Homo sapiens: one gene and its partners. The protein of the gene in region 1 interacts with the protein of each later gene in a biochemical or structural test. Each region holds a gene or a part of one and is shown on either strand. Other genes may lie near its edges.

Region 1 (3,500 bases):
AGAGATGGGTACTGTATAATTAATATAACTGAAATTTAAGACAAAGCTAAAGACTCCTTTCCTAGGTGCTCTCATGCTTCCTCTGCTCAAACCTAATTGCACTTTTGTAATTGCTGACTTGCCCACCCTAAAACTAGACTCCACTTCCTTGAGGCCAACTTTGTAATTTTTTTTTTTTTTGAGATGGAGTCTCGCTCCAGGCTGGAGTGCATGGTATGATCTCGGCTCACTGCAACCTCCGCCCCCAGGTTCAAGTGATTCTCCTGCCTCAGCCTCCTGAGTAGCTGGGATTACAGGCGCGCACTGCCACACCTGGCTAATTTTTGTATTTTTAGTAGAGATAGGGTTTCACCATGTTGGTCAGGCTGGTCTTGAACTTTTGAGCTCGTGATCTGCCCAACTCTGCCTCCCAAAGTGCTGGGATTACAGATGTAAGCCACTGCACCCAGCTACATAGTTCTATTCTTAAGACCTAGGGTAGGCCGGGCACAATGGCTCACGCCTGTAATCCCAGCACTTTGGGAGGCCAAGGTGGGCGGATCACGAGGTCAGGAGATCAAGACCATCCTGGCTAACACGGTGAAACCCCATCTCTACTAAAAAAAAATATATATATATATATAAAATTAGCCGGGCGTGGTGGCAGGCACCTGTAGTCCCAGCTACTCGGGAGGCTGAGGCAGGAGAATGGCATGAACCCAGGAGGCGGAGGTTGCAGTGAGCCGAGATCACGCCACTGCTCTCCAGCCTGGGCGACAGAGAGAGACTCCGTCTCGAAAAAACAAAAAAAGACCTAGGGTAGTGCCTGTCACATAGGAGAAGCATTTGTTGAATCAATGAATATGAATGAACTACTAGTATGTCATTTGACCTTCAAGTTTCTCCATCTGTAAGGAGTAAAAGTTGCTCTACCTTTCTCAAAGGGAATAAAGTTGAAATCAGGGAAAGAAATGGAAACACTCGACTGGTTGCAATGGCTCACGCCTGTAATTCCAACACTTTGGTAAGTGGAGGTGGGTGGATCGCTTGAGCCCAGAGTTTCAAGACCAGCCTGGGTAATATAGAGAGACCCCATGTCTACAAAAAATACAAAGCTCAGCCTCCAGAGTAGCTGGGACTACAGGCGTGTGCCTGTATATATATATATATATATATATATATATATATTTTATATATTTTTTGTAAAGATGAGGATTTGCTATGTTGCCCAGGCTGGTGGGCGACTCTTTTGTAGTTCATAAGTGTGATGATTTGGTGTTCATGTGAACATGTGAAACGTGCCACCCTCAAACCTTGTTACAATGTGGGCATATTACCCATCTGACATGAAAAAAATTTAAAAACTAGACAGACACCTGTAATCCCAGCTACTCTGGAGGCTGATGTTGCAGTGGGCCAAGACTGCACCACTGCACTCCAGCCTGAGTGACAGAGCGAGACCTTGTCTCAAAAACAAAAAGATGTGGAAACATTCTAAGACATCTTTTTTAACTATTCCTTCAGTAGATCCCATATTTATGAACCACTTGAATTGCCTTTTAATAACAAAAGTTCTGTATTTAGTCACTCTTTAAAATTTAAAAGCTTAGGAGTTCTGTGGGACACAGCTTACCCATTCACCATTATCCAGAATTTTCAGTGCTAAGCAAAAAGCTCCTGCTGCAATTTGAGAAGGAGGAAAGTGCACCATGTCATAGTCCAACATAGTTAGTTCCATCAGGTATTTGGCCAAAGTATGTTGCTCGACATCAACCTGAAACAAAACCCATGTTACTGAGTTTCTTTCAGAAAATTTTCCTTTGGCACTAACCTGCATGCCCATATGTATCTTTAACTACAAATGTTTGTCTACAAACTCTCAAATGCCCATGGAAAGTCCTAATATTAACATGCAGCCTGACTAGAAATAAAGAACAACTTTATCCCTTCCCCATGTAGTTAGGTATAATACAGGTCAGTTGAATTCAACGTGCTTGGTCAGCAGCAGTGTTCCCCCTAATGTACCCATACGGAGAGGTTTCTCAAGAAACCTGTACCTCTCCAATCTTAGATGCTCTCCGAAGGAAGTGCAAAGGTAGAGGCCGACCCAGACCAAAGTTTAAAGCTCTTAGAATCTTCATTTCCATCTGTCTGATTTGGTGCTTAGTATAAGTGTTGTCAGTCACAAAAGCAAAGTCACCAATTTCTGGAGGGTACATTTCTTCATATTTGCTTGCAATAAACATGGCAGTGACACCAACCAGCTGCAGCATCTTCTTGGGCACACAATTATTCTGCAATGGGAATTTCAATAGGGTGAATAAAATGTTTGAAAAGGAGACACAGAGCTATGATGAAGGAGAGGTAGAAAGACATTCTCCCATAGCAAAATCTTAATGACACCATATCCCCCAAGAAAGATTTTAGTTGAAAAAGTCAGTTTATTTCTTTCTTTTTTTTTTGAGTCTCGCTCTGTCACCCAGGCTGGAGTGCAATGGCGTGATCTCAGCTCACTGCAACCTCCGCCTCCAGTAGCTGGGACTACAGGCGCCCGCCACCATGCCCGGCTAATTTTTTGTATTTTTAGTAGAGACAGGGTTTTACTGCGTTGGCCAGGATGGTCTCGATCTCCTAACCTTGTGATCCACCCGCCCGCTGGGATTACAGGCATGAGCCACTGCGCCCAGACTGGCCTGAAAACATCAGTTTCTTATGACTCGGCTAGAATCCTGGAAGGGAAAACTCTTACTGAAATGCTCACCTGCATGAACCGATCAATAATGGAGACAGTCATGTACATGGTCTCCTGCAACAACCTGAATTTCATTTGAACCTGTACTAGCCAGTCAATTAGGATGGCTCTCATGTTTCCAGTGACTTCCCGACCCAGTAGGTATTTTGGTCTGACTGCTTGCTCTTCCTGCAAAAGAAAATGCTGATTATTCTTAGAAACATGACTCCATGTGACACATTTATGTCCAGAAAGATCAGTTAGTTCCTACAGTAGCACTGGGGCATTTATAATCTATATCAGTTCTTAATTCAATTATTCATATGGTCAACCACAAACAACACCATCACCAAGAAATAAAGCAAACATGAAGGCTGGCGTGGTGGCTCACGCCTGTAATCCCAGCACTTTGGGAGGCTGAAGTTGGCAGATTGCTTGCAGCCAGGAGTTCGAGACCAGCCTGGCCAACATGGCAAAACCTGTCTTTACTAAAAATACAAAAATTAGCTGGGCATGGTTGCGCACACCTGTAGTTCCAGCTACTTGGGAGGCTGAGGCAGGAGAATTGCTTGAACCTGGCAGGTGGAGGTTGCAGGGAGCCGAGATTGCACCACTGCACTCCAGCCTGGGTGACAGAGTGAGACTGTCTCCCCACCCCAAAAAAAAAAGAAAAAAAAGGCAAACATTAGATAGGACAGTATGACAGCTTTTTTATATTGTCAGGTCTTACGATATTCTTCACCACAACTGCTGCTGGTCCACTCCCTTCCAAATAAAGATACTACATTAT
Region 2 (2,583 bases), on another chromosome or scaffold:
CTTCAGTACAAAAGTATAAAACAAAACAATCTCAGTGACGAAAAACATGGCATATCAGAGAATAATCACTTTCTAGCCTTTGCTAGGTCATGGTTACTTTATCAGTGGGCAGTTCAGGGTCCACCTTCTCTACCACAAAAACTGATGATCCCCCAAAAGCAACGAGTCTTGGGGAAGCCCAACTGGGGGACTCATGCATTCAATGGCACATGGAGAGGGGTCTCTTCTGAAGTGCCTTCCTCCCCATTACATTGTTTTATTCTGTTATTATCAAAGCAAGGAGAAAATTATCAGTTGACCATTCACTATAACACACCAGGAAATTTCCTGGTGGCATAATGAAAATCATCTTGCTTTTGGTTTAGGAAAGATTATACCTCCTTGACTGGAATCACAAATTTTAGGCTTTGCAGCCAATCTGAAAATCAAAAGTTGAATGTTCCACTGAAGTTTCTCCGGCCCACAGGGCAAGGGGGAAAACAGTTCTCCAACAATGAGAATCTTAGCAAATATTTTATTAATACACACTGTCATAGTCCTAGGATAGAAGAGTCCTCAGAACACTGCTCCACATTGAAGATGCTGAAATGGGTGGTCAGGTCCTTAGTCTTCCTTCTAGTCTGTTAATCCCACACTCCTTTAACAGAACCATGCTTGCTGCCCTTACCCTGTCCACATCCCTGAAAGGAAACGGGTCTCTCTCAGCCAGATGCAGATAGTTGACACTCACTGCCTTTGCTATGGCAGGGGGCTCCTTATGATTAACCCAGAACAGGAAAAACTTAGTGTCAGCTGACCGAAAGGAACTCAGCCTTAATTTTTCAAAAAGTCACTCTCATTCCAGCTATCTCCAGGAAGGCGCTGGAGTATCTTCAGCATGAGCACAGAGATTCCCACTGCCGAAATATTCGGAATACTTTCCTTGATTTCTCAGAGAGACTCTGTAGGTAGAAAAGCTTATTATTAGTGATTACGTTCTTTTATAGAGACAAAGGATAGATCATTTGTCCCACAATGATCTGGATATGTCTAGGACTAAGTAAAAATTCATTTTGTAGTATGCTATACATAATGTATACCTAAAGTCAGACTAAAGATCGAGGGGCCAACGTTCTACTGTCAGACTCCTGTTAACACACTCTGAGCCTCTAAGACACGGCTCATATCCTCCCTTCAGGCATCTGTATCTGTCCTCATCTTTGTACTTGAGGATGACACTTCTGACTTGCCGTTAGTACAGCACATGTTTTGCACTGGTTTTTCTTTTTTTTTTTTTTTTTGAGACGGAGTCTCACTCTGTCACCCAGGCTGGAGTGCAGTGGCGCAATCTCGGCTCACTGCAAGCTCTGCCTCCCGGGTTCACGCCATTCTCCTGCCTCACCCAGTAGCTGGGACTACAGGCACCCGCCACCACTCCTGGCTAATTTTTTGTATTTTTAGTAGAGATGGGGGTCTCACCGTGTTAGCCAGGATGGTCTTGATCTCCTGACCTCGTGATCCGCCTGCCTCGGCCTCCCAAAGTGCTGGGATTACAGGCGTGAGCCACCACGCCCGGCCTGCACTGGTTTTTCATTCATGATGCTGAATTGGCCCTAGTTCATTATTTATTGTGAATAAGTACTTATACTTAATGTGATGCCTAGCTGAGGTTAACAGTATAAACCAAGGACAACTAATAAAAACAGAGTTGAATGACCCCTATGAGTTTAAGCTCTGGCCTTGGTCTTCACCGCTTTTATGTTTTAGCCAGCAGTGCTAATAATAGGAAGAATCGCAGTGCCATCTGATCATGCCAATGAAGTACTCTGAGATTCTGAGAAATGGTGGTAAAGGGAGACAAAGTAATTCATTAGGAGACAAAAGCTCTTGGTGAATCAGAACACTTGGTTCTGTCTGCCTTTGAGAGTCACAATGAAGAGCAAGTATTCCACGCAGAAAGGGTCTCAGTGAGAGTACAAAGAATGTCTAGCAAGATGATCCACAGTTACCTCCAGTTTCTCATATGACGCTTTCACAGGTTTTTTTTTTTTTTTTTTTTTTTTTTGAGACAGGTCTCGCTCTGTCGCCAGGCTGGAGTGCTGTGGTGCCATTTCAGCTCACTGCAACCTCTTGACTCCCTGGTTCAAGCGATTCTCCTGCCTCAGCCTCCTGAGTAGCTGGGATTACAGGCATATGCCACCACGCCCAGCTAATTTTTGTATTTTTAGTAGAGATGGAGTTTCACCATGTTGGCCAGGATGGTCTTGATCTCCTGACCTCATGATCTGCCTGCCTCGGCCTCCCAAAGTGCTGGGATTACAGGCGTGAGCCACTGCGCCCGGCCCACTTTCACAGTTTTTTAAAAATCTATCCTCTTTGAGGATGTTTCAATAAGTTCCAGGAGGAAAAAGTTTGAACTCTTACTAATGACTGAGGGAAATTTAGTTAATAGAGTGACAAAGTTGAAAGAAACCTGAGTTGAAAAAATAGTATACACTTTTTTCTTTTTTTTTTTTTTTTGAAAGGGAGTCTCACTCTGTTGCCCACGCTGGAGTGTAGTAGTGCGATCTCGGCTCACTGCAACCTCCACCTCCCAATTCTCCT
Region 3 (3,500 bases), on another chromosome or scaffold:
GAAATGATATTGTCTGCTTATGTTCAGTAGTTGTGGTTACCTAGTTATTATGGAAGTGTTTCCACATTTTTATGAACAATTTAAAAAGTCATATATTATGGAGCAGAAAATATTAATTCTGATTACACAGTATCCTCGACATTGATTTCTGTTTTTACCTCCTAAAGAACTGCACAGTGAATCCAAAAGAAAGTATACTGAAAAGAGTGAAGGATATAGGATACATCTTTAAAGAGAAATTTGCTAAAGCTGTGGGACAGGGTTGTGTCGAAATTGGATCACAGGTAACTTGAATTCATTGTAATTCGTGGTACTATAGAGTAATAATATTAAAAGCAGCATCTTTCCAGTTCGTATAAATACTCTAACAGTATTTGTCTAGTAGTATAAAATACTGTCAGATACTATATCCCTGCTGCCTGTGTATGCTGCTATTTATGGGTAACTTTATGGAAAACTACCTCCCACCCCATTATAAAAACTATGTAATAAAGGAACACATAGCCATTGTAGAAATTTTGGAAAATACAACTAAGAAAAAAATTGAAATCTTTGATATTAAATTTTTGATTTTGCTTTGACTTCTACATGTATGACTGTTCATGTATGCATATCCTAATGTGAATGGGACTATACATGCCATTTGTCAGTGATATTATTGAGTGATATTATTTCAGGAAATCTAAAGCTAATATAATAGGTAAGAGTATGGGCCATGGAGTGACAGCCCTGGGTTTATATTTGGTTCTACCATTGTTGATCTTGGACATGTCATTTAACTTCTCTGAGATTCAGGTTCTATATTTGCTCTGCTTTGTTGTGTGGCATTAATGAGGATAATATACAAAAATATATTGGAAAACTGGAGTCCACTGTACACATTTATTTCAGTGTAGTGAGGTTATATTTTGATGCCATCAGTGTTTTAAACATTGATATTTAATGGTTCTTTTTGATTCTACAGCCATGCACCACTTAACAGGGATATGTTCTGACAAATGCATCATTAGGCAATTTTGTTGTGTGAACCTGGTAGAGTGTGTCTGTACAAACCTAGATGGTATAGCCGATTGTACATCTAAGCTGTATGATATAGCCTATTCATTCCTAGGCTACAGGCCTCTACAGCATGTGTACTGAATACTGTAGGTAATGGTAACATAATGTGTTACCATTTGTGTATCTAAATATATCCAAACATAGAAAAGGTAAAGATATAGTACAAAAGATAAAAAATGGAACATTTGCACAGAGCACTTACTATGAAAGGAGCTTACAGGATTGAAAGTTGCTCTGAATGAGTCAGTGAGTCGAGTGGCAAGTGAATGTGAAGGCCTACAATATTACCTATGACATGACTGTACACTATCGTAGACTTTATAAATACTACACTTAGGCTAAACTAATTTCATAAACATTTTTTCTTTCTTCAGTAGTAAATTAACCATAGCTCACTGTAACTTTTTTACTTTATAAATCTTCAGTTTGTAAGAAACTTTTGACTCTTATAACACTTAGCTTAAAACACAAACACCTTATACAGCTGTACAAAAATATTTTCTTTCTTTATAATCCTTATTCTGTACACTTTTTTCTATTTAAAAATTTTTTCAATTTCATAAAGATTTTTGCCAAAAACAAAGGCAAACACACACATTAGCCTAGGCCTACACAGGATCAGGATTAACAATACCACTGTCTTCTGCCTCCAAATTCTGTCCCAAGTCTTCAGGGACAATAAAATGCATAGAGCTGTCAACTCCTATGATGATGATGCTATCTTCTGGAATATCTCCTGAAGGAGCTGCCTGAGGGTGTTTTACATTTAACTTTTTTTTTTTTTTACAAGTAGAAGGAGGATGCTCTAAACTAATAAAAAGTATAGTATAATAAATACATAAACCAGTAACATGTTCATTATTAAGTATTATGTACTGTACATAATTGTATGTACTATACTTTTATATGACTGGCAGTGCAATAGGTTTATTTACATCAGCATCATCACAAAGATGTGAGTAATGTAATGCATTGCACTACATTACACTAAACAATAGGAATTTTTCAGCTCCATTATAATCTTATGGGACTACTGTTAGATATGCAGTCAGTTATTGACCAAAAACGTTGTTATGCGGTGCATGATTATATATGAGATTTTTGCTCTTAGTTTGGAAGGAAATAATATGGTGTGTGTTTATATTTCTAAAATTTGGTTATTCTTTCAAATAATGGGAACTAGTTATTTGGCTAAAACTTCTTGCTCATAAGGTCAGTTTGATCTGATTTTTGCCTGTGTCAGTTTTACTAAATTTATGGACAAAGACTGTCCTCTTAATCCTGGACAGCTATCTTGAAAATACATGTCCTAGGTCATGAGAAATGTTATATAAGGTACATAAAGTGCTTAAAATAGTACTGGGCACATAACCTATCTTTAGTATGAATGATATAAACTGAAATGGAGTTAAGGAAATCCAGGTACTGGACCTACCCTCTTGTTAATTTACTTGGGAATGTTAATCACCACTTAATACTTAAGTTGTGAGTTTTAGACAAGCTAGCTTTTGTGTTGTCTTGGCGGCCATATTTGTAAGAAGGGTGAGAAGTATGTTTTAAGAAAAGGCTTTTTAAAAAATTTTAGTAATTGTCAGCTGGGTATAGTGGTACATGCCTATAATCCCAGCCTCTTGGGAGGCCAAAGCAGGAGGATCTCTTGAGCCCAGGAGTGTGAAGGCCAGCCTGGGCAAAACAGTGAGACTCCATCTCAAAAAAAAAAAAAATTTCATAATTGTGATTTTCTAAAATAGCAGGCTCTTATTTTTCTTTTTGTTTGTTTGTAGCGATACAAACTTGGAGTTCGCTTGTATTACCGAGTAATGGAATCCATGCTTAAATCAGTAAGTTAAAAACAATATAAAAAAATTTCAGCCGGGCGCGGTGGCTCACGCCTGCAATCCCAGCACTTTGGGAGGCCGAGGTGGGCAGATCAGGAGGTCAAGGCATCAAGATCATCCTGGCCAAAATGGTGAAACCCTGTCTCTACTAAAAGTACAAAAATTAGCTGGGCGTGGTGGTGTAGACCTGTAGTCCCAGCTACTTGGCAGGCTGAGGCAGGAGAATCCCTTGAACCAGGGAGGTGGAGGTTGCAGTGAGCCAAGATTGTGCCATTTCACCCCAGCCTGGCAACAGAGCAAGACACCATCTAAAAAAAAAAAAAAAAAAAAAAAAAATTCAATGCTGACACAAATAAGGTTTCAATTAAACAACTTCTTTTTTTTTTTTTAAATTATCTGTTTCAGGAAGAAGAACGATTATCCATTCAAAATTTTAGGTAAATTTTTTACTTTTAGTAAAAAATTTTTTTCTTTTTATAGAAGTAAGTATTTTATAATCTTTTTTTTTTTCCTTTAGCAAACTTCTGAATGACAACATTTTTCATATGTCTTTATTGGCGTGCGCTCTTGAGGTTGTAATGGCCACATATAGCAGTAAGTTAA
Region 4 (3,500 bases), on another chromosome or scaffold:
GAAGGCATTTGTGTTCTACCTTGAGCACCTGGAACAGTGTCTTTCATATAAGAAGTGCTCCATACCTGTTTACTGGTTGAATAAAATAGATGTAGAAGCAGAGAAGATACTTGGGCTATGATTCTTGACTATCCAGATAAATGCTCAAAATTTGCTTCTGCAGGACACTGTTTTTCAGAGGTAGTGTAATATTAGGCTCTAGTGGTACATGCTGGGATGATTGCTAGCCACAGAGCCTCTTCCTCAAAAATTGCCACTGTTTCTCAAATATCACAGAATCAGAGGCAATTAAAAACAACAGAAGAAGGCCAGGCATGGTGGCTCATGCCTGTAATCCCACTATAATCCCAACAGTTTGGGAGGCCAAAGTGGGAGGATTACTTCAGCCCAGGAGTTTGAGACCAACCTGGGCAACATAGCAAGACCTCGTCTTCACAAAAAATTTAAAAATTGTCTGGGAATGGTGGAGTAGGCCTGGAGTCTCAGCTATTCAGAAGGCTGAGGTGGGAGGATCACTTTAGCCTGGGAAGTCGAGGCTATGGTTAAGTCATAATCATGCCATTGCACTCCAGCCTGTGTGATAGAGTAAGACCTTGTCTCAAAAAAACAAAAAACAAACAGGAGCAATAGGACATATTCTAAACATAAGAGTACTAAATAGGAAAAAAAAAAAAGTGGGACAGAATAGTGTTATAGTGACCCCAAAAAAGCCATTACAAACTGAGAGTAAAAAACTTGATTTTGGCTGGGCGTGGTGGCTCATGCCTGTAATCCCAGCATTTTGGGAGGCCGAGGTGGGTGGATCACGAGGTCAGGAGATCGAGACCATCCTGGCTAACATGGTGAAACCCCGTCTCTACTAAAAAAATACAAAAAAATTAGCCGGGCGTGGTGGCGGGCGCCTGTAGTCCCACCTACTCGGGAGACTGGGGCAGAAGAATGGCATGAACCCAGGAGGCTGAGCTTGCAGTGAGCTGAGATCACGCCACTGCACTCCAGTCTGAGCGACAGAGTGATACTCCATCTCAAAAAAAAAACAAAAAACAAAAAAACCCTGATTTTGTGGTATGAGCTTCTAAATAGCAGGAATCAGGATTTTTCTCTGTATCCGTAGTACCTAGTACATAGAGGCACTTGATCATCTGTTATTAAAATAAAGGAGTTTGATTTATGAATTAAACTGATATTAACTTTTTTTTTTTTAAGATGGAGTCTTGCTCTGTCACCCAGGCTTGAGTGCAGCGGCACCATCTTGGCTCAATGCAACCTCCACCTCCTGAGTTCAAGCGATTCTCCTGCCACAGCTTCCTGAGTAGCTGAGACTACAGGCATGGGCCACCATGTCAGGCTAATTTTTGTATTTTTAGTAGAGATGGGGTTTCCCCATGTTGGCCAGGCTGGTCTCGAACTCCTGACCTCAAGTGATCCACCCACCTTGGCCTCCCAAAGTGCTGGGATTTCAGGCATAAGCCACCGTGCCCAGCCTGATATTAACATTTTTAATCACTTATTTTCCACACCTGAGAATTAAGAAAAAAGGATGAAAAAACTGAAGAATTCTGAGACCTTGGATTCCTAGGCTACAAAAAGCTGGATAAAATAATTTCTTACCAAGATATACACTTTGTCATCCTGACCTTGAATCGTGAATCTAAAAGTGCTTCTAGCAGAGGAGAGCTGCACCAGACACTGGGCGATCACGCTCTGGACAAACCAAGACCTGTTTGAACAGAAATCAATTTTTACAATGTGTATCTCATAATAACTCTAACTGGCAAGATAAGCAAAAAATACACACACGGTACCTAAAAGGCAGACATATCCACATGCCAGACTTTTCTACGGACTGCTCATTCCCTCAGAATCTGCACTGATGTGGATTTTAATATATTTTAATGTATTCAGGTTTGCTCCATTCTTCTTAAAACCTATTCTCCAATCCTTGATACACTTTCCACACCAAACCTAACTATTCACCCCTACTGAATAAAAAAATACCATGTTAGAACAAGTCAATACTCCATTTGTGCTGTAGCATATTAAACAGAGAATAACTAACTTACAAAAGAAGGCAAGAAATTTCCTTCCAAACATCAGACAGTATTGTCTACATTTTCTTCCATTTGGATCTCCCTAAAGTGTCAGCTCTGAGGTACAGAATCAAAGTATTTACATAAGGATAAGTTCAAGGCTATACTCAAAGATTGCTATAATTTTTGGATATCAACAAATAAACTGGAATAAAGACATATCATGGTTAACTTGTTTGCAAACTAAAGAGTCAAAGAAATAAAAACACTAATAGATTTAGTGACTAAGTACCATGTTTTTAAAACATAGGAGTCATTTGAAACTGACCCATGTTTCAAATTTTAAATAATTCAAATTAAAACCAGAAATTATTCAAAAAACTTATTGGTGACTGGGTGATAAGATTCTAGATATCTGGCACATAGAAATAAGCATAGAAAACTTTCAGAATTAGAAGATTTATAAGAGCACATTTGTCTACAGCACTATATGATCAAAACATTTTTTAAAATCCTCAAAACTTTTATATGTGTGGTTTGGTTCAACTATCAAAAAGGCTTTCTCTTTCCTTTTCCAAATAAAGAAAGGTATGAATAAAAATGAATTCCCATATGATCAATTGTACTTCCTTTTTCCTACATTTGGAATTACAAATATATGCCATGGAATACTACTTAGCCACAAAAAGGAACGAAATAATGGCATTCACAGCATCCTGGATGTAACTGGAGACTATTATTCTAAGTGAAGTAACTCAGGAATGGAAAACCAAACATCGTATGTTCTCCTTCATAAGTGGGAACGAAGCTATGAGGATGCAAAGGCATAAGAATAATACAATGGACTTTGAGGACTTGGAGAAAAGGCAGGGGGAGGGGTAAGAGATAAAAGACTACACTTGAGTACAGTGAACAGTGCTTGTGTGATGGATGCACCCAAATCTCAGAAATTATCACTATTCATGTAAGCAAACATCATCTGTTCCCAAAAACCTATTAAAATAAAAAATAAATTCAAAACCAAAAAATAAAAAATAAAGGTCTGAATGGGGAAAAAAATAAATTACAAATAAATAAATGTAATTTGCTATTTGTACCTTGGTATGATAGGAAAACTCCTCTCAGATGACTGAATAATTATCTCTGTCATATAAAACTTGGTGGTTTCTAGAAACAAAAAAGAAAATTAAGACTCTCCCCAATACACTAATAATTTTATTGTGGGCAAGTTGACTCCAAATTAGGATATTCCAAACTAAATATTAAATATACTGGTAAAATTAATATTCTGTAAACATTTTCCCAAAACTACTTAGTTTCAGAAGACAAAGCATTGGTCACTACAAGGAGATAGTTCTGAAGCTTCTGTGTCTTTTTAGAAAATAATGCCCAGAGACTCTGCTTACACATATGGAAGATTATAAAAGTTAGTCACATCACAGGCATAGTGCACTTAGATAGAAATTAGTC

The links. The genes of interacting proteins can lie anywhere in the genome.
Region 2: of the proteins of CCNB1 (region 1) and ZC3HC1, one has a biochemical effect on the other in vitro, tested with the Homo sapiens proteins (3 studies listed by BioGRID, with this or other methods).
Region 3: of the proteins of CCNB1 (region 1) and RB1, one has a biochemical effect on the other in vitro, tested with the Homo sapiens proteins (2 studies listed by BioGRID).
Region 4: the proteins of CCNB1 (region 1) and UBE3D form a complex in vitro, tested with the Homo sapiens proteins (one study listed by BioGRID).

Annotation. Positions count from the first base shown.
Region 1 is NC_000005.10:69,173,650-69,177,149, reverse strand, and holds part of CCNB1 (G2/mitotic-specific cyclin-B1), read right to left. Parts: intron 2,900-3,500; coding exon 2,741-2,899; intron 2,274-2,740; coding exon 2,037-2,273; intron 1,754-2,036; coding exon 1,613-1,753; intron 1,327-1,612; exon of another isoform or gene 1,223-1,326; intron 1-1,222. UniProt on the Homo sapiens protein: Essential for the control of the cell cycle at the G2/M (mitosis) transition.
Region 2 is NC_000007.14:130,017,792-130,020,374, forward strand, and holds the end of ZC3HC1 (zinc finger C3HC-type protein 1), read right to left. Parts: intron 942-2,583; coding exon 873-941; 3' UTR 501-872; downstream 1-500. UniProt on the Homo sapiens protein: Required for proper positioning of a substantial amount of TPR at the nuclear basket (NB) through interaction with TPR.
Region 3 is NC_000013.11:48,376,751-48,380,250, forward strand, and holds part of RB1 (retinoblastoma-associated protein), read left to right. Parts: intron 1-167; coding exon 168-284; intron 285-2,843; coding exon 2,844-2,900; intron 2,901-3,084; exon of another isoform or gene 3,085-3,124; intron 3,125-3,302; coding exon 3,303-3,334; intron 3,335-3,414; coding exon 3,415-3,491; intron 3,492-3,500. UniProt on the Homo sapiens protein: Tumor suppressor that is a key regulator of the G1/S transition of the cell cycle. The hypophosphorylated form binds transcription regulators of the E2F family, preventing transcription of E2F-responsive genes.
Region 4 is NC_000006.12:83,020,842-83,024,341, forward strand, and holds part of UBE3D (E3 ubiquitin-protein ligase E3D), read right to left. Parts: intron 3,198-3,500; coding exon 3,128-3,197; intron 1,983-3,127; coding exon of another isoform or gene 1,970-1,982; exon of another isoform or gene 1,828-1,969; intron 1,721-1,827; coding exon 1,612-1,720; intron 1-1,611. UniProt on the Homo sapiens protein: E3 ubiquitin-protein ligase which accepts ubiquitin from specific E2 ubiquitin-conjugating enzymes, and transfers it to substrates, generally promoting their degradation by the proteasome.